Linked DNA regions of Homo sapiens: regions 1, 3 and 4 are each linked to region 2. Evidence: fine-mapped expression QTL. A gene starts in region 2. Each other region holds a variant in brackets. All regions are shown on one strand. Distances are between the middles of the regions.

Region 1 (5,200 bases), 180 kb after region 2:
TCTTAGAGATGCTGACTCAGTAGAACATGGCTCATGAATCTGCATTTCTAACAGGCCCATACGTGATGCCAATGCAGCTGGCCTGAGAATCAGGCTTTGAGAATCACTTCAAGGAGATCCCAACCATGTTTCACTCTGCTGATTTTTTTTTTTTTTTTTTGAGACAGAGTCTCACTCTATTACCTAGGCTGGAGTGCAATGGTGTAACCCTGGCTCACTGTAGCCTTGATGATCTCCCAGGTTCAAGTGATTCTCCAGCCTCAGCCTCCCAAGTAGCTGGGACTATAGGTGTGCACCAATATGTCCAGCTAATTATTTTATTTTTTGTAGAGACAGAGTTCCCCTATGTTGCCTAGGCTGGTCTTAAATTCCTGTGCTCAAGTGATCCTCCCTCCTCAGCCTCCCAAAGGGCTGGGAGTACAGGCATGGGCCACCATGACTGGCCTCTGCTCAGTATTCTATCCTTGACAGTGATATAAAGGAATTTTTTTTTTTAAGTTCCAGGGTACATGAGGTTTGTTACGTAGGTAAATGTGTGCCATGGTGGTTTGCTGCACCTATTGACCCATCGCCTAAGTATTAAGCCCAGCAAGCATTAGCTATTTTTCCTGATGCTCTCTCTCCTCCTGCATGAAGGAATATTTTTGAAAACTGCAAGACGAGATGTTGGGAATCTATTTTAAAACTATTTATTTATTGGAGGGGGTGGGCAATGCAAAACCCAACAACTACTTATTGACTACTTTGGATTAATGATATTTATCTAAATTCATGTAACCTGTTTAGTCATATTTACAGCCTTGCTACTTCTTGGGACATGAAAAGCCAGCTCACTGTCTTATAGGAAGCTGGTGTAGGTGTCTAATAGTTCAGATCAGGCAAAAAAGTGAGATATAGATTGTGCATCCAAATCCAAAAATGTGAAATCCAAAATTTTTCAGAACCTTCTCCCCCCGCCGTCTGAAGCAAAATCTGAAACTTTTTGAGTGCCAACATGACACTCAAAGGAAATGCTCAGTGGAACATTTCAGATTTTGGATGTTCAGAACCAGTAAGTATAATGTAAATATTCCAAAATCTAAAAAAAATCTGAAATCCAAAAGAATTCTCGTCTCAAGCACAGGGGATACTCAACATGTAGTACAGAAAAGAGGCCAAGAGGTGCTCCCCAAAATATGGACATGTGACAATATTAAAACAAGGTAACTACTAGCAACAAACTTCTACATTAAATCAATGCTTATTCCTAGTGAAGTTAAAGGTACCTTATCCACTTGCCCCAAACACCATTACATTAAGTTCAATTTATAAGCAAATTGTGAGAAAAGCAACAAGAAATAGTTAACTTATATTAAGACAAAGATGATTCCTCAAATTACTTGGCATCCTTACTCTGAAAGCCTGAAATTATGTAAGATTCAAGGCACATAGTAGGACTGAAAGTCAAAATGGAAATGGATATATAGTTACAGAAATCAGTGTAGACCTGAATATCACCAGCATCTAACATATTTCCTGCCTGGCTCATACTAGGTACTAAATAAATGTTTATTAAACGAATTTAGTCTGCTACAGAACCTGCTGATAGCACTTTTTTTTTTTTAAGACTGAGCTTCAATCTTGTTGCCAAGGCTGGAGTGCGATGGCGCTATCTCGGCTCACTACAACCTCTGCCTCCCGAGTAGCTGGGATTACAGGCATGTGCCACTACGCCCGGCTAATTTTGTATTTTTAGTAGAGATGGGGTTTCTCCATGTTGGTCAGGCTGGTCTTGAACTCCCTACCTCAGGTGATCCGCCTGCCTCGGCCTCCCAAAGTGCTGGGATTACAGGCATGAGCCACCGCGCCCGGCCGCTGATAGCACTTTTACTGACTCCCACTTTTCCTTCCAACTAAACCATTAAGGTGACTCAGTATGAAGTGTGGAAGTACTTGTAACTTTTTGCAATATAAAATAGAACAGGCCGGGCGCAGTGGCTCACGCCTGTAGTCCCAACACTTTGGGAGAC[C/T]GAGGCAGGCGGACCACTTAAGTCAGGAGTTTGAGACCAGCCTGGCCAACATGGTAAAACCCTGTCTCTACTAAAAATACAAAAATTAGCTGGGCGTGGCGGCAGACACCTGTAGTCCTAGCCACTTGGGAGGCTGAGGTGGGAGAATCGCTTGAACCTGGGAGGCGGAGGTTGCAGTGAGCTGAGATTGTGCCACTGCACTCCAGCCTGGGTGACACAGTGAGACTCCATCTCAAAAAATAAAATATAAAATAAGTAAATAAACAAAATAAAATACAATACAAAAGAAGTGCCATCATATTGTTTATGTCCTGTCTCAAAGGAATAAGGTGAATATAGAAATATCTGGAGAATCCTTTCTGAGACCATGGTTTAACATTTTTGCCTTTTGAGAAGAACTTCAAGTACACAGTGCCTCCACTCACTCCCAGTTCAGCCCTCTTTCACGTAATACTTCCTTCCCTTGCCTACCTGGACCCCTTGGTTAATTAACCAAACTATTGTCTTCCTCGTTGCCTTAGCTTGTGATATAGCTAATCCCTAAGTCCCTAATTCTGGATCATTAGAAAATCTGTCTTTTCTGCTCTACCTAGAGAGCTGAACACAAGTGTAAAGAATAAAAATCATATAATTGGCCAGGCGTGGTGGCTCGCGTCTGTAATCCTAGCACTTTAGGAGGCTGAGGTGGGTGGATCACTTGAGGTCAGAGGTTTGAGACCCAGCCTGGCCAACATGGTGAAACCCCGTCTCTACTAAAAATACAAAAATTAGCCAGGCGTGGTGGCATGCGCCTGTATTCCCAACTACTCGGAAGGCTGAGGCAGGAGAAGGGCTTGAACCGGGAGGCAGAGGTTGCAGTGAGCCGAGATAGCGCCACTACATTCCAGCCTGGTGACAGAGTGAGACTCCATCTCAAAAAAAAAAAAAAAAAAAAAATCATATAATCATATTGTATGGTGTCACTGCAAAATGTGTGATTTCCTCTCTCTGTTAATTCCTGAATGCTGCTGGTTAGTCCTTTTACTTGTCTGTAATCAGCAACTTCCATTCAACATGGCTGTCATTACAGACCTCTGGCATTCTCCTTAATGCTCTAATCCATCCCCTACCCTCTTACACTTACTTAGTAAATGACCTTTTTCAGTGAAAAAATTAAAGTCATTAGGTGAGAGGTCCTTAACATCCTACCTTTTACCAGTAAACTTACTTCCATCTATAATTTTACTTTCCTCTTTCCTTTTAATTACAGTCATCCCTTAGTATATCTAGCAATTGGTTCCAAGACTCCCACATATACCAAAATTCAAGCAAACTCAAGTCCTGCAGTACGCTTTATAGAACCTGCATATATGAAACACTGGTACTCCATATAAACAGGTTGCATATACTGCAAACACTGTTTTTTATTTGTTTTTGGTTGGATAAAATCTGTGTATAAGTGGACATGCCACAGTTCAAACCTGCGTTGTTCAACGGTCAATGGTACATAAAAAGCATGTCAATCTCTTTTCTTGACCAAGGATAATCAATCCCTCCATCTGTGGCCTTGATCCCATCTATTCTAGAAATATGCTCCTTTAAATTATTTTGGTTCTTTCCCAAATCTTTTTTTTTTTTTTTTTTTTGAGACGGAGTCTCGCTCTGTCACCAGGCTGGAGTGCAGTGGTGCGATCTCAGCTCACTGCAACCTCCACCTCCCGGGTTCAAGTGATTCTCCTGCCTCAACCTCCTGAGTAGCTGGGACTACAGGCACGCACCTCCACACCCAGCTAATTTTTATATTTTTAGTAGAGACGGGGTTTCACCATGTTGGCCAGGATGGTCTCGATCTCTTGACCTCGTGATCTGCCCGCCTTGGCCTCCCAAAGTGCTGGGATTACAGGTGTGAGCCACCGCGCCTGGCCTTTTTTTTTTTTTTTTTGAAACGGAGTCTTGCTCTGTTGCCAGGCTGGAGTGCAGTGGCGCGATCTCAGCTCACTGCAACCTCTGTCTCCTGGGTTCAAGTGATTCCGCTGCCTCAGCCTCCCAAGTAGCTGGGATTACAGGCATGCGCCACCATGCCCAGCTAATTTTTTGTATTTTAGTAGAGACGGGGTTTTACCATGTTGGACAAGATGATCTTGAACGCCTGACCTCATGATCCGTCCGCCTCGGCCTCCCAAAGTGCTGGGATTACAGGTGTGAGCCACTGCGCCTGGCCCCCAAATCTTCAACTGCTCCCTTTTTATAGATTTTCTTTCTCCTTAGCGTTTTTTTTTTTTTTTTTTTTGAGACAGGGTCTTGTTCTGTCACCCAGGATGGAGTGCAGTGGTGGCAATCTCTGCTCACTGCAACCTCTGTGTCCCAGGTTCAAGCAGTTCTCATGCCTTGGCCTCCCACGTGGCTGGGATTAGATGCGTGCACCACCAAGCTCAGCTAATTTTTGTACTTTTAGTAGAGACAGAATTTTGCTATGTTGGCCAGGCTGGTCTCGAACTCCTAGCATCAAGTGACCTGCCCACTTCAGCCTCCCAAAGTGTTAGGATTACACATGTGAGCCACCACGTTGGCCTCCCCTTAGCATTTAAATATATTCAAATCTCTGCCATCCTTAAAATTAAAAATTAAAGACACCCCCTACCAGTACCTTCCCATTAACTGTGCTACTCAACCCCTTACTCCACACTAATTATCACTACTGACCTTTTAATTTTCAGATTCTCTTATAATTTGCCTGCATCATCTGACATCAATCACCACTCCCTTCTTAAACCTGCCTATCTTGCATTCATATTTTCCTTATTTTCTTCCTATCTCTCTGACCATCTCTCTTGGGTTACATTTCTGACATCTTTTCTATGTTCTGTAACTACCAACTCTGTATTGGTAGTTTGGAATTCCCAAATGACCATATGCTATTAAATATCACTACCCTGGATATATAAAAGACATATTCAAAAGAGATTTGCCTGTTACTCCATCCATCCTACTCTTCCATCTTCCTTGTATTGACTAGTAGTGCCACCCATCTAGCTAGTTTTTCAAGTCAGAAACCTGTGAGTTATCTTACTTTCTCTAATTCATTATCTACCATACACTCACTCAACCAAAGTCTACAGATCTACCGAGTCCATCCCTACTAGTGGTGTCTGGGTTATTTCCAGCACTGACCATTTATTACGAAGTTCTTAGAGGGTCTCTCTGCCTCCAGT
Region 2 (5,200 bases):
TAGCAGGGCATAGTGGCGCATGCTGCAGTCCCAGCTACTCAGGAGGCTGAGATGGAAGGATCACTTGAGTCTGGGAGGTTGAGGTTGCAGTGAGTCGTGATCATGCCACTGCACTTCAGTCTAGGTGAAAGAGTGAGAGGCTGTCTGGGAAAAAAAATTTTTTTTAACTAAATGTATATAAATGTAGCAATATGTCAACTATTAACAGCAATTAGATTGAATTATATATATGTATAGTTATTTATAAATCTTATTTAATGTGGGGCGTTACTGCATTTCAGTATGTTTGACATAATATAGGATGAGGCCTTCAAAATTGGAATTTTCTTTTTCTTTTTTTTTTTTTTTTTGAGTTTCGCTCTTGTTGCCCAGGCTGGAGTGCGATGGCGCAATCTTGGCTCACCACAACCTCTGCCTCCCTGGGTTCAAGCGATTCTCCTGCCTCAGCCTCCTGAGTAGCTGGGATTACAGGCATGCACCACCACACCCAACTAATTTTGTATTTTTAGTAGAGATGGGGTTTCTCCATGTTGGTCAGGCTGGTCTCAAACTCCTAACCTCAGGTGATCCGTCCGCCTCGGCCTCCCAAAGTGCTGGGATTACAGGCGTGAGCCACCACCCCCAGCCTTACTTAGGAATTTTCTAAAGGGGAGACTCCCTATTTTGTCAGGATTTCATCCTCTTTAATCCTAAATGTCCATCTTTATATGAGGATCCTCATAAAAAGACTCATCCCAGAGTCACAGAAAGGACAAAATGAAATGAAAAAAGAAAAAAAAACAGTATTGTAAAAGAACTAATCTGTAAGATGCAAAGTAGTATTAGCACTGGATTTCCGGTCAGCTCCTGGAGGGCTAAGGGGTTGTTTTGTTCATTTCAGCTTCTCAGTCAGTATCAGTTGGGTGGTCAACTCCAGGGGACACTATTCATGTTATATTTAACTGGAAGAATTTGCCATTCACAGAAAAGGCAATGTGAATGCTGCTCCCCAGAGCACCATTCACAGAAAATGCAATGTGAATGGTGCCTCCTGGAGATTTTGCCTTGCTTAGCAAGGTGCTAGAGCTAAGGACTCAGAAATGTTTGTTAAGTGAGTGAATGGAATCCCAGGCTACTTCTTACTCATTCCAACCCCCAGGACGAAAAAGAAAAGTTGACAAGGGGTGAGGAGAGTGGGGGAGGAGAAAGGGTGATCCTTAGCTACAAGGCTTCTATGAGATTGGGTGTGGGTCGGTGCTGATGGGAGTGCAGGGGAGGTGAGCAGGGAGAGGATACTAAAGCAAGCGTCCTGTTCCCAGGGTTCCTAATTTTCCTAGAAATATTACTTCTCTCCGATCTCAGTGCAGAACCATACTGATGATTTTACAGCCCTGGATTTGTCAAGTTCTTATGTTGATGTATGCTGTTCATTCATTAAACAGAAGAACAAACAAACGCAGTTAGCGCCTACCATAAGCCAAATTCTGTGCTGGAGGTAGAGTGGTGAACAGGACAGCAAAGGTTCTACCCCGCATGGGGAAGCAATCACCCTCGGGAGGTGGTACTTCAATTGCGACTAGAAGAAAAAAGAAGAGTGAGTGATTCAGACCAGGCCAGGCAGTCAGGAAGCTTGAGGGACATAGCCCTCTGAAGCGGGTCTGGAGCAAGGGAGTGAGGGAGACCAGTGGACAGGGGCCAAATCAGGCAGGGTTTGTGGAGACTGTATTTTACCCAAGGTAATTGGGAGCCAGTAAATAATTTTAAGAAAAAAAAAGTGATATGGGCAAATTTTAATTTTTCAAAATGGAGCGCAGGTTGGAAGAGGCAAAAGTAGAGGCAGGGAGAGCCATTAAGAAGCTACTGCGGCTGTCTTGGCGACACATGATGGTGTCTTTAACCAGGGTGGTGCCAGAAGAGATGGAGAGAAGTGGATAGTTACAGGTACGTTTAGGAAGTAAAATCCGACAGGGGTGGTGACAGTAAACAGCCCTACCTCAAAAAAGATCATGGAAAACACTTCAGTTTGCTCATTAACCCATCAGGCGTCCGCCTTCCCTTAACCCTATCGCCTCGATATATGGACACAGCAGGGGGACGAGGGGCGGGGCAGGCGCCCACAAAAATCCGGGAACTTTAATTTAAACTGTGTGGACTTCAGCGGAGAGTAGAATAAAGAACACAGGAACTTCCGGTTACTCCGGAAGTGGAAGCTTCATACTCCTAAGCTCCTCCCCCGGCGGCGAGCCAGGGAGAAAGGATGGCCGGCCTGGCGGCGCGGTTGGTCCTGCTAGCTGGGGCAGCGGCGCTGGCGAGCGGCTCCCAGGGCGACCGTGAGCCGGTGTACCGCGACTGCGTACTGCAGTGCGAAGAGCAGAACTGCTCTGGGGGCGCTCTGAATCACTTCCGCTCCCGCCAGCCAATCTACATGAGTCTAGCAGGTAAGCCCCACCCCCACGGTAAGCCCCGCCCATTTGTCTTGCTCCCGCCCCCTGCGCCCCCAATACGCCTCTGCAATCCCTGAACCTTAGTTTCCCCACGAGGTCTCTTATGAATGTGAGTGAAGCCCCTAAGGTGATGAGAGCCTTACCAGCCTCTCTTACTTTCCCAGAAGCTTTCATTTACTTATTTGTTCAGTCAAAAGGGTATTTATTAAATACATTCGGGCCACAATGTCTAGGAATGGCACAGAAATCAGACCAGGGTCCCGCCCATTGGGACTCACAGTCCCCACGGGGACATGAGCCTTTTCAAGTGCAAGGCAGAGAATGATTTGAGCCCCTGAAAGACTCTTTGATTAGGAAGCATTTGGGATAGGAAGGTGTCAGTTCCGGCTTTGAAGACGTGGGGGCAGGGATCATCTTGGAACGTTTTGTTTGAAGGAGGGACTTTGGACTGGTACATTCGATTTGGACCATAGTGGGCAAAGAACCAACGTATTGAGCACTCACTGTGTGACAGGTGTCACAATATGTCAAGTAATTTTTATCACACCCTTTGAGATAGTTTCTCTAATCCCAGTTTTACAGATGGGGATTAGAGAGATTAAATGCCCTGCCCAAGGTCACACAGCCAGTATGTAGTAAAGTGGAGTTTCCAGTTCTGGCCTGTTTGACCACAAGCTTGTCCTCTTTACTATTATACCACTTTGCATTCCAGACAGAGGGAACAGAGAGAATGGATGCCCTGGGCAGATGTGGGCACATCCAGGAGCTTTATTTACTCAGGGAGCAGGGTACATGAACAGGAGTAGTGACCAATACGGTTGGAAAGGCAATTTGGAGCCTCAAAAGTCAGGTTGAAGAATTTGGGCTTCATTTTCATAGGAAGGGAGTAAGATAGCAAGAACTCCTTCCAGGAGAGTAAGAGCAAATCCTATATTCAGGAAGGACAAATATAAACCCAGGTTTCCATAGATGAGTTCATCAGATGCCAACATCTTGATGGACTTGAGCAAAAGGAGAGGAAATGTCTGCCAAGGTAGAAAGATCATCTGAGCCCTGGAGTTCAAGACTAGCCTAGGCAACATGACAAGATGCCTTCTCTACAAAAAATAAAAGAATTAGCCAGACATTGTGGTCTCGCTACTTGGGAGGCTGAGGTGGGAGGATCGTTTGAGCCCAGGAGGTCAAGGCTGTGGTGAGCCATGCTCTCCCCACTGCACTCCAGCCTGGATGAAAGAGCGAGACCCTGTCTCAAAAAAAAAAAAAAAAAAAAAATGCCGGGTGCGGTGGCTCGTGCCTGCAATCCCCGCACTTTAGGTGGCAGAGGCAGGCAGATAACCTGAGGTTGGGAGTTCAAGACCACCCTGACCAACATGGAGAAACCCCATCTCTACTAAAAATACAAAATTAGTTGGGTGTGGTGGTGCATGCCTGTAATCCCAGCTACTCGGGAGCCTGAGGCAGGAGAATCGCTTGAACCCAGGAGGCGGAGGTTGCAGTGAACCGAGATCGCACCATTGCACTCCAGCCTGGGCAACAAAAACAAAACTGTCTCAAAAAAACAAACAAAAAAAAGACGAATATCTCTAATTGCTCACTAAAATATGCATACATACGTACATACACCTTCCCCTATGTGTACATCTCATCATCTCTCATTCATTCAAAGGGGAAGCTAGAATTTTGAGATTTCTCCTGGTTCTCTCCAACTTACAGGCCCTCTTGGCCTACATTTGCGCTTGGACCCCATTCATGCTCTCTCTTTCCTCTCTGTGCTGGGGAGTTCACCAGGCCACATTTGTCTGTTTCAGGCTGGACCTGTCGGGACGACTGTAAGTATGAGTGTATGTGGGTCACCGTTGGGCTCTACCTCCAGGAAGGTCACAAAGTGCCTCAGTTCCATGGCAAGGTGAGTTGGAGGGTCAGGGTAGGCATATGGTAGTAGCGTGGTAGGAGTAATATACCCCCTGGTTGGACCACACTGTCCAAGCAGTCTGAGGCATGGGGTAATGCGTGTGTGTTTGGGGCAGCTACCTGTTCTCCCCAAAATCTGCTGGTTTCCATAGAATTGGATAGGACCCATGTGTCCTGCCTCTGGATTTGGAGTAGCAATATCTGGAAGGCTTTGGAGTCTCCCCAGAGAGTGGTGCTGGGCCTCTTAGAGTGGTTGAGATGCCCACCTTACTGCAGGGACAAATTCCCTTACCTACTGTGGCTTGTTTCCTGTTGCTTCTCCAGTAGGGGTCTGGATTCACAGTAATATGCTTCAGCTTGTCTAGCGAGGCACAGTTTGCTGGTACCTTTCTTTCTTTTGTTTTTTGTTTTTTGTTTTTTTTTTTGAGATGGAGTCTCCCTCTGTCGCCCAGGCTGGAGTGCAGTGGCATGATCTTGGCTCACTGCAACCTCTACCTCCCAGGTTCAAGCAATTCTCATGCCTGAGCCTCCCAAGTAGCTGGGACTACAGGTGTGTGCCACCACACCCAGCTAATTTTTTGTATTTTTTTTTTTTTTTTTTTAAGTAGAGATGGGGTTTCACCATGTTAGCCAGGATGGTCTCAATCTCCTGACCTTGTGACCCTCTCGCCTCAGCTTCCCAAAGTGCTGGGATTACAGGCGTGAGCCACCGCGCCTGGCCTGCTGGTACGTTTCAATCCAGTATTATCTCATTCTGGCCTGTTGAGGTTGGCAGGAAGTATTCACCCCAGTTTTTCACAGAGTAAGCTGAGGCTCAAAGGACCGTGGTCAGTGGTAGAGGAGGGGTTGGGACCTGTGTCTTCTGG
Region 3 (5,000 bases), 230 kb before region 2:
ATTATCCTTTCATGTTCCTTGGCTATCAAGACTGAAGGGGAAGTTTCTGATGAGCAGAAATCCCTAAGGTATTGAGGGAATTTATGGAAGAGTCAATTATTCCAACCCCCTGCCTCTGATCTCAGTTATTCCTGGGGTACTTGGGTTTCAGAAGCCCCAGGGTTAAGTGTTGAACTCTCACTTGGAGCCCAAAGTGGAATATGGTGAGGAGTTCATTATATTTCATAATGTGAAAAAATATTTCATAATATGAACAATAGCAAGGCGCTCATAGCTCAGACCTCTCTGATACAGTCCATTTCTTTTTATGAGGTCTCATGCCAAGAGACGGAAAAGAGCTCTAACAGCCCTGAGCAGCTTTAGAGTATTACAGTGTGCCAGGAACTGCTTTAAGTGACCAAGAGCAGTACCCAGATTACTTGGAGGTGGTGGACCTTTCCACAAGCAGAGTTTCGTTAAGCAAGCAAGGGGCTTTTGGAGAAATTTCAGATTCGCATCTTTCAAAGACTGAGTCAATTCTCTGAAAAGTAAATTGCTAAGAGCCAATTTGCTAAAAGTCAGCTCTCAAAAAAAAAAAAAAAAATCAGTTTGCCAAATGATCAATTCACTGAAAATGGAAAAATACTTTAACCCAGAACTAGGATGTTTTGCCACAATAATATTACTCCCCAGGGACAGGGCAAAGTTTAAGTCTGGGAAAAAAAAATTGACTAAGTCAGTCAACTTCCTTTAAGGAAAAGCTCATCTGTGTGCATACAAAATTCGGAGGCAGAGGTGAAACCAAACTTAAAAAGAAAATCCTTACAATGATGGGAATTGGTAATTTGAATTGATTTTTAGCTTGGTCTGCTCCCTATTTAAATGGGTTATTTTGTAACTGTATAATGCTGATGGTGCAGTTAAAGTGTGCATAGGGCTGGGCACAGTGGCTCGCGCCTGTAATCCCAGCACTTTGGGAGACTGAGGCGGGTGGATCACTTGAGGTCAGGAGTTCAAGTCTGGCCTGGCCAACATGGCGAAACCCTGTCTCTACTAAAAATACAAAAATTAGCTGGGCATGATGGCGCATGCCTGTAATCCCAGCACTTTGGGAGGCTGAGGCGGGCGGATCACTTGAGGCCAGGAGTTCGAGACCAGCCTGGCCAACATGGCAAAACCCTGTCTTTACTAAAAATACAAAAATTAGCTGGGCGTGGTGTCGCATGCCTGTAATCCCAGCTACTCGGGAGGCTGAGGCAGGAGAATTGCTTGAACCTGGGAGGTGGAGGTTGCACAGTGAGCCATGATTATACCACTGCACTCCAGCCTGGCGACAAAGCAAGACTCCGTCTCAAAAAAAAACAAAAAAAAAAGTGTGCATAGGATTTTGTGTTTGTTATTAAAGTCCATACTTTATTCACATTAACTTTTTTTTTTTTTTTTTTGAGATGGAGTGTCGCTCTATTGCCCAGGCTGGAGAGCAGTGGCGCGATCTCGGCTCACTGCAACCTTCACCTCTAGGTTCAAGTGGTTCTCCTGCCTCAGCCTCCCGAGTAGCTGGGATTATAGGTGCCTGCCACCACACCTGGCAAATTTTTTGTATTTTTAGTAGAGACAAGGTTTCACCATGTTGGCCAGGCTGGTCTTGAACTCCTGACCTCAGGTGATCCGCCCGCCTTGGCCTCCCAAAGTGCTGGGATTACAGGTGTGAGCCGCTGCACCCAGCCCATGTTATCTTAGTTTTGACCTAGTGTCCTTTTTCTATTCCAGAATCCCATCCAGGATCCTACATTACATTTCGTTGTCATGTCTCCTTAGGCTCCTCTTGGCTGTGACAGTTTCTCAGACTTTACCTGTTTGGGATAATCTTAGCAGTTTTGAGCAGTACTGGTCAGGGATACTGTAGAACGTCCCTCTGTTGGAATTTGGCTGATGTTTTTTCTCATGGTTAGACTGGGTTCTGGGTCTCGGGGAGGAAGACCACAGAGGTAAAGGACCATTCCTATTACATCACATCAGGGGTACGTACTGTCAACATGACCTATCACTGTTGATGTTGACCTTGATCACTTGGCTGAGGTAATGTTTGTCAGGTTTCTCTACCAGAAGTTACTCTTTTTCCTCTTCTTCATATAGTACTCTTTGTGCACATAGTTTTTATTTTTCTTTTTCTCTCTGATATTTTTCTTTTCTTTTACACTGCTCAAGAAGCAAATGGTCCCTAAGACATTAGTGTCTCATGTACACACAAATAGTGATTTCAGTCACTGTTTCTAATTCTGTCACATTTCCACCAGTTCCAAAATGGATTTGTCTTTGGAAATCCAGCCCTGCCTCCAAAACCTAGCAGTGGGAGCTCTCCCTCCCCTGTAGGTTCCCATCTGGGAGGTTGGAGACAAAGGCACGCAGCCCCTTCGGCATGCCCACACATCCTCCACGAACCTGGGGTGGCAACTGACTCAGAACCAAGGCCCTTATTAGTGCCTGATCAATCAGGGCCGAGTCCATGCGTGTTTGTGACTTTCCAGGGTTGCCTCACTTCATACTTGTGTGGTTCATACAAACAACAGCGACAGAACTGCTTTTATTGGAGATGGAGTCTCGCTGTCGCCCAGGCTGGAGTGCAGTGGCTTGATCTTGGCTCACTGCAGTCTTTGCTTCTGCCTCCCAGGTTCAAGCGATTCTCCTGCCTCGGCCTCCCAAGTAGCTGGAATTA[C/T]AGGCATGTGCCACCACCCCCGACTAATTTGGTAGAGATGGGGTTTCACCATGTTGGCCAGGTTGGTCTCCAACTCCTGACCTCAAGTGATCTACCCACCTCAGCCTCCCAAAGTGCTGGGATTACAGGCGTGAGCCACCCCACCGTGCCCACCCAGAACTGCTTAATTTTTATTTCCCAATTGGCTGGGGCTCCTACTTCTTTAGCTTTACTTTTCTTTGTCTTGTTTCAGCCTACAAGACTGGCTTACAATTATTAAGCAGTTAGAATGTATGCCAGGCACTTGGTTAAGTGCTTAACTACATCATTATATTTAATTTCTTCATTTCTTTTCTTTTCCTTTCCTTTTCTTTTTCTTGTTTTGTTTTGTTTTGTTTTGAGGCAGAGAGGCAGAGTGTCACTCTCCTCCAGGCTGGAGTGCAGTGGTGTGATCTCAGCTCACTGCAACCTCCGCCTCCTGGGTTCAAGCGATTCTCATGCCTCAGCCTCTCAAGTAGCTGTGATTACAGGCACACACCACCAGGCCTGGCTACTTTTTGTATTTTTTAGTAGAGACGGGGTTTCACCATATTGGCCAGGCTGGTCTCGAACTCCTGACCTCAAGTGATCTGCCTGCCACAGCCTCCCAAAGTTCTGGGATTACAGGCGTGAGCCACTGTGCCCAGCCCTAATTTCCCTAAATATAGGAAGTAGACATTAGTAATATTCTCCTACTATAGATGAAGAAACAGATTCAAAGAGGTTAAGTGACTTACCCAAGGTCATGTGGTAAGAAGGTGGAGGAGTGGGCTCAAATCTGGGATCCTGTGACCCCAAGGTAACTGTGCTTCTGGTGAGAACAGCATTTCCTGGACAGCCACAGCTGTGGCGCTCCCTCAGAAGGGAGGGGGATGGTGGCACGGAACCCAGGATGGGGCTGCCCCAGGGAGGGTGTTTTGGAGAGAGATCTTTTGGGGGTCTGCTCCAGAGTGACCTTTATCATTCTCTTTCCAGGTCAAAAGGCTGAGTTTCAAATTCTGGATAATGTAGACTCAACGGGAGAGTTGATAGTGAGATTACCCAAAGAAATAACAATTTCAGGCAGTTTCCAGGGCTTCCACCATCAGAAAATCAAGATATCGGAGAACCGGATATCCCAGCAGTATCTGGCTACCCTTGAAAACAGGTGAGGTTGGAGTTGGGCAGCAGGGAAGGAGGGGAAGAAGCCCATCTTGGGCACCAAGGGATTCAAGGGTGGCAGACCGGCTCTTTTTAAAATTTATTTATTTTTATTTTTCTTTTCCCTGCTTTTCATGAGCTTTGTGGGGGACTGGCTCTCTAGGGCAGCCTCTCGCTCTCTACTTCCAGGATTCCCTCAGCCCTCCCCTTTACGCAAGCACGCCTTCCTCTTCTCTGCCTCCAGAAGCCTTCTCATTCACCCAGGAGCAGTCTCCAGGAAGCCTTCTGATGCCCCCAATTCACTCATATCCCTGCTGTCCCCCAGGATGGTTAATTCCTCTGACTTGGACAAACCTGGTTGTTTTTTTTTTGTTTGGTTTTTGTTTTGTTTTTTTTTGAGACGGAGTCTCGCTCTGTCGGCCAGGCTAGAGTGCAATGGCATGATCTCGGCTCACTGCAACCTCCACCTCCAAACCTGGTGGTTTAAGAGGCACTCTCCTTTGCTCTCCTCTGCTCTCCTGCACTGAGCTGCCCACATCAGTATTTTGTGCTTGTTTCCCTCTGCCTTGTGGGCAAGCCAGTGGCTTCCATGTTCGTCTTTCCCACTGGACTGGAAGCAACTTGTGACAAGGGACTGACTTTACTAACCTCTCTGTATTGACCCCAAGCACACAGTAGGTACTGAGTGAAAGAGAGCTGAAGTGAAGCACGAGGAAAGCAAAGAACCCCTTGGAGGATGTTTCCTGCATGGAGTACAGCCACCCCACCCCAGCAGGGTGGCACCGATCCAGTGCCACAGAGGTTCTGGTAGCTGGTGGGCAGGTGCTTCCAATTCAAGAGGACATCACTAGCCATCCCCTCAGCAATAGTTCTGTTGTTGTTTTCTTCAGCTGGGATTGTTGGAGATTGAGGAGTAGCTCAGGGGAAGGTGACCCACAGTTTTCCTGGCCTTGCTCTCCTTGAGTGGAGCGGGTACCTTTTTTCTTTTCCTTTTCCTTTTTTTTTTTTTGAGATGGAGTTTCACTTTTGTTGCCCAGGCTGGAGTGCAATGGTACATTCTTGGCTCACTGCAACCTCTGCCTCCTGGATTCAAGAGATTCTTCTGCCTCAACCTCCCGAGGAGCTGGGACTACAGGTGCCCGCCACC
Region 4 (5,200 bases), 210 kb after region 2:
TCAGCCTCCCGAGCTGCTGGGACTACAGGGGCCCGCCACCATGCCCGGCTAATTTTTTGTATTTTTAGTAGAGACGGGGTTTCATCGTGTTAGCCAGGATGGTCTCGATCTCCTGACCTCGTGATCTGCCCGCCTCAGCCTTCCAAAGTGCTGGGATTACAGGTGTGAGCCACCGCACCCGGCCATTAGATTTCTTTCTAAAAAGCTTTCCTATGTAAAAATTACTTTTCATGTCAAAGATAGGAGCAGCTGGTACATGGATATGGAGCAGCTGGTACATGGATATAGCAGCACACACACACATACAAAATAGAAACAGAAACACATCATGAATTTAAAATAAAAAAATAAAATTGATAATGGAAGACATCCTCATCTCATTTTCTTTGATACAACATCTCACTGTTATCCAGGCTAGAGTGCAGTGGTGCGATCATGGCTCACTGTAGCTCTGACCTTCCAGGCTCCAGTAATCATCCCACCTCAGTCTCCCAAGTAGCTCAGACCACAGGTGCATGCTATCATGCCTTTTCTTGTTTAATGGTAGAAACAGGGTCTGGCTATGTAGCCTAAAACACATGGGCTCAAACAAGCCTCTTGCCTTGGCCTCCCAAAGGGCTGGGATTATAGGAGTGAGCCACAGCACCTGGTCTATTTCCGTTTTTCTACCTTTAATAATTTATTTATATGTAGAATACTGATAATAATCATGGCCAGGGCTGGGCACGTTGGCTCATGCTTCCAATCCCAGCACTATGGGAGGCCAAGGCAGGTGGATCACCTAAGGTCAGGAGTTCGGGACCAGCCTGGATGACATGATGAAACCCTGTCTCTACTAAAAATACAAAAAAATTATCCGGATATGGTGGCATGCGCCTGTAGTCCCAGCTACTGGGGAGGCTGAGGCAGGAGAGTCATGTGAACCCCAGAGGCAGAAGTTGCAGTGAGCTGAGATTGAGCCACTGCACTCCAGCTTGAGTGACAGCAGGAATCCATCTCAAAAAAAAAAATAATGGCCAAACTCAGTGGCTCACACATGTAATGCCAGCATTTAGGGATGCCAAGGTGGAAGGATCACATGAGTTGAGGAGTTTGGGACAAACCTGGGCAACATAGCAAGACCCCGTCTCTTAAAAAAAAAAAAAAAGAGGTGGAGGAGGAGATGGCTAAAAAAAAAAAAAATCATGTTTAAAAATAATTAGATGGGCCCGGTGCAGTGGCTCATGCCTGTAATCCCAGCACTTTGGGAGGCCGAGGCAGGCAGACCCCGAAGTCAGGAGTTCAAGACCAGCCTGGTCAATGTAGTGAAACCCCGTCTCTACTAAAAATACAAAAATAGGCGGGGTGCAGTGGCTCACGCCTGTAATCCCAGCACTTTGGGAGGCCAAGGTGGGCAGATCACGAGGTCAGGAGATCGAGATCATCCTGGCTAACACGGCGAAACCCCATCTCTACTAAAAAATACAAAAAATTAGCTGGGCGTGGTGGCAGGCGCCTGTAGTCCCAGCTACTCGGGAGGCTGAGGCAGAAGAATAGCGTGGACCCAGGAGGTGGAGCTTGCAGTGAGCCAAGATCGAGCCACTGCACTCCAGCCTGGGCGACAGAGCAAGACTCTGACTCAAAAAAAAAAAAAAAATAAATAATAAATAAATAAAAATAAAAATACAAAAATTAGCTGGGCACAGTGGCTCACGTCTGTAATCCCAGCACTTTGGGAGGCCAAGGTGGGTGGATCACCTGAGGTCAGGAGTTCGAGACCAGCCTGACCAACACAGTGAAACCCCGTCTCTACTAAAAATACAAAAAAATGAGCTGGGCATGGTGGCATGCGCCTGTAGTCCCAGCTACTTGGGAGGCTGAGGCAGGAAAATCGCTTGAACCCAGGAGGTGGAGGTTGTGGTGAGCCAAGATCGCGCCACTACACTCCAGCCTGGGCAACAGGGTGAGACTCACTCCAGCCTGGGCAACAGTGAGACTCCAGACTTCATCTAAAACAAAAACAAAAATAAAAACACTACAAAAATTAGCCAGACATGGTGGCACACACCTGTAGTCCCAGCTACTCAGGAGGCTGAGGCAGGAGAATCGCTTGAACCCTGGTGGTGGAGGTTGTGGTGAGCCAAGATGGCACCACTGCACTCCAGCCTGGGCAACAGAGTGAGACTGTCTCAAAAAATAATAATAATAATTAGATTAGGGCTGGACTTGGTGGTTCACGCCTGTAATTCCAGCACGTTGGAAGCCCGAGGCAGGTGGATCATTTAAGGTCAGGAGTTTGTAACCAACATGGTGAAACCCCCATCTCTAATAAAAATACACAAATTAGCCAGGCGTGGTGGTGGGCACCCGTAATCCAAGCTACTCAGGAGGCTAAGGCAGGAGAATCGCTTGAACTTGGGAGGCGGAGGTTGCGTGAGCTGAGATTGCCCCATTGCACTCCAGCCTGGGCGACAGAGCAGAACTCTGTCTCAAAAAAAAAAAAAAAAAAAAAAAAAAAAAGGCAGGCATGGTGGCTCATGCCTGTAATCTCTGCACTTTGTGGGGCCAAGGCAGGTAGATCACCTGAGATCAGGAGTTCCTGACCAGCCTGGCCAACAGGGCGAAACCCATTGTCTACTAAAAATACAAAATTAGTTGAACATGGTGGCAGGTGCCTGCAATCCCAGCTACTTGGGAGGCTGAGGCAGGAGAATTGCTTGAACCCGGGAGGCGGATGCAGCCGAGATCACATCACTGCACTCCAGCCTGGACAACAAGGGCAAAAATTCCATCTCAAAAAATAAATAAATAAAATAATAAATAGTTGGGGCACGGGGATTCATGCCAGTAATCTCAGTACTTTGGGAGGCTGAGGCGGACAGATCATGAGATCAAGACATCGAGACCATCCAG[G/A]AGAAATATGGTGAAACCCTACCTCTACTAAAAATACAAAAATTAGCTGGGTGTGGTGGCGGGTGCCTGTGGTCCCAACTACTCGGGAGGCTGAGACAGGAGAATCGCTTGAACCCTGGGAAGTTGCAGTGAGCCAAGATCTTGCCACTGCACTCCAGCCTGGCTATGGAGAGAGAATCTATCTCAAAAAAGAAAAAAATCATCAAGATGCTTTTTGTTTCCTAAACATTTTTCTGAAGTAAAAAAAAAAAAAATCAAGATTCTTACCCACATTAATATTCTAGCCACTATGTAAACAAGTATTGAAATGAGGTTCCTATAGCTAAAGGGCCAGGGTCCCTTTGGACAATGCTCAACTATTTCCTTTTCCAACAAAAACTATAAAAATATGGCTTTTATCTTTTTATCTATGGCTTTTATCTATCTATATTTTGGACCTCAAGTTAATTTTTTCCACATAAATTTGAGATTCTGTTCCTGACATGGTGGCTCACACCTGTAATCTCAGTATTTTGGGAGGCCTAGGTGGGCGAATCACGAGGTCAGGAGTTCGAGACCAGCCTGGCCAACATGGTGAAACCCTGTCTCTACTAAAAATACAAAAAATTAGCTGGGCGTGGTGGCAGGCACCTGTAATCCTAGCCACTCGGGAGGCTAAGGTAGAAGAATCGCCTGAACCTGGGAGATGGAGTTTGCAGTGAGCCAAGATCGCCACTGCACTCCAGCCCGGACAACAGTGTGAGACACCGTCTCAAAAAAAAAAAAAAAAAATTTCAGGTTCTCTTCTCTTCTGTAATTTTCATCACGTGGCAGAATTTGTTATTACTTTTTAATTAAAATTTTATTTTTAAAGACAGGGTCTCTTTCACACAAGCTGGCGTACAGTGGCCCAATCATAGTTCACCGTAGCCTTGAACTCCTGGGCTCAAGTGATCCTCCTGCCTCAGCCTCCCAAGTAGCTAGGGCTAAAGGTACCTGCCACCACATCCAACTAATTTTTAAATGTTTTATAGAGATGGGGTCTCACTATGTTGTTGTCCAGGCTGGTTTTGAACTCCTGGCCTTAAACAGTCCTCCCACCATGGCCTCCCAAAGTACTGGGATTACATCCACAAAGCTCAGTCCATAAATACCTATTAATGTTAGAAAGAGTATATGGAATTTTTCTTTAAAATCACATTTTGGGTTGGGTGCAGTGGCTCATGCCTGTAATCCCAGCACTTTGGAAGGCCCAGGTGGGAGAATCATTTAAGGTCAGGAGTTCGAGACCAGCCTGGCCAACATGGTGAAACCCTGTCTCTACTAAAAATACAAAAATTAGCCAGGCATGGTGGCACATGCTTGTAATCTCAGCTACTCAGAGGAGCTGAGGCATGAGAATCACTTGAACCCAGGAGGCAGAGGCTGCAGTGAGCTGAGATCGCGCCATTGCACTCCAGCCTGGGCAACAGAAAGAGACTCCATCTCAAAAAAAAATAAAAATAAAAAATCAGATTTTGGCAGTCTGGTAATGCCAAAAAAAAAAAAAAAAAAAAAAGGAAACATCATATTTCTTTCTATAGTGATGGAGCCATTCCTTAAAATAGTTTTTTTCCCCCTTTCCATTTACTGTACTTGCATCTTCTCTAAAGAACAGAGGGTACGAAAAAACATACTTTCTCACCCAGAGGGCTGCAATGTATCATCATTCAAATGACCAATATTGGCCGGGAGTGGTGGTTCATGCCTGTAATCCCAACACTTTGGAAGGCCAAAGCAAGCGGATCACTTGAGTCCAGGAGCTCAAGACCAACCTGGGCAACATGATGTAACCCCATGTCTACAAAAAATAAATTAGCCGGGTGTAGTGGCATGCACCTGTAATCCCAACTAGTCAGGAAGCTGAGGTGGGAGGATCACTTGAGTCTGGGAGGCAGAAGTTGCAATAAGCCCAGATCACACCACTGCACTCCAGCCTGGGGGACAGAGCCAGATCCTGTCTCAAAATAAAATGAAATAAAATTACAATTATCACCTTGAAAGGAATGAAGGCTTGGGAATTAGGCTAGGATGCAAGATCGGTGGCACTTAATTTTGTGCTTACAATGAAAAGTTTGTTTCAATAAATGCAATTCACATCCCAAAGAGCACAATATCACAGTAGAATAAGCAAACCATAACACAAAGACTGCCATCACATGTCACTGCTAAAGCAAGTGTGTTTGGTGGTACTTGCCTAGTTAGTCCTGTCAAGATATTAAGGAAATACATATATACTGTTTTGAGACAAAGTTTCGCTCTGTCACCCAGGCTGGAGTGCAGTGGCATG

The links. PIP is the estimated chance that this variant, and not a neighbour inherited with it, causes the effect.
Region 1: its variant is the best candidate, but not a certain one, in a credible set for the expression of PGAP3 in subcutaneous fat (GTEx, PIP 0.79).
Region 3: its variant is the best candidate, but not a certain one, in a credible set for the expression of PGAP3 in whole blood (TOPMed, PIP 0.69).
Region 4: its variant is the best candidate, but not a certain one, in a credible set for the expression of PGAP3 in whole blood (INTERVAL, PIP 0.54).

The regions. Positions count from the first base shown.
Region 1 is chr17:39,503,958-39,509,157 of GRCh38, reverse strand. The region is part of intron 6 of CDK12 (cyclin dependent kinase 12); the gene reads right to left. Among named protein-coding and RNA genes, the nearest start is that of CDK12, 45 kb to the right of the region's middle. The variant C/T (reference allele first, on the strand shown) is at 2,010.
Region 2 is chr17:39,685,051-39,690,250 of GRCh38, reverse strand. PGAP3 (post-GPI attachment to proteins phospholipase 3) reads left to right here and starts at 2,194. Exons shown (of 8, transcript NM_033419.5): 1 at 2,194-2,417; 2 at 4,232-4,329. The coding sequence starts at 2,237. It also overlaps a transcript of ERBB2 not described here. RefSeq lists a silencer at 821-1,115 and enhancers at 395-1,355, 2,066-2,175.
Region 3 is chr17:39,911,186-39,916,185 of GRCh38, reverse strand. It overlaps GSDMB (gasdermin B), which reads left to right. Exons shown (of 11, transcript NM_001165958.2): 3 at 3,689-3,860. Among named protein-coding and RNA genes, the nearest start is that of GSDMB, 4.9 kb to the left of the region's middle. The variant C/T (reference allele first, on the strand shown) is at 2,696.
Region 4 is chr17:39,474,011-39,479,210 of GRCh38, reverse strand. All of the region lies in intron 2 of CDK12 (cyclin dependent kinase 12), which reads right to left. Among named protein-coding and RNA genes, the nearest start is that of CDK12, 15 kb to the right of the region's middle. The variant G/A (reference allele first, on the strand shown) is at 2,893.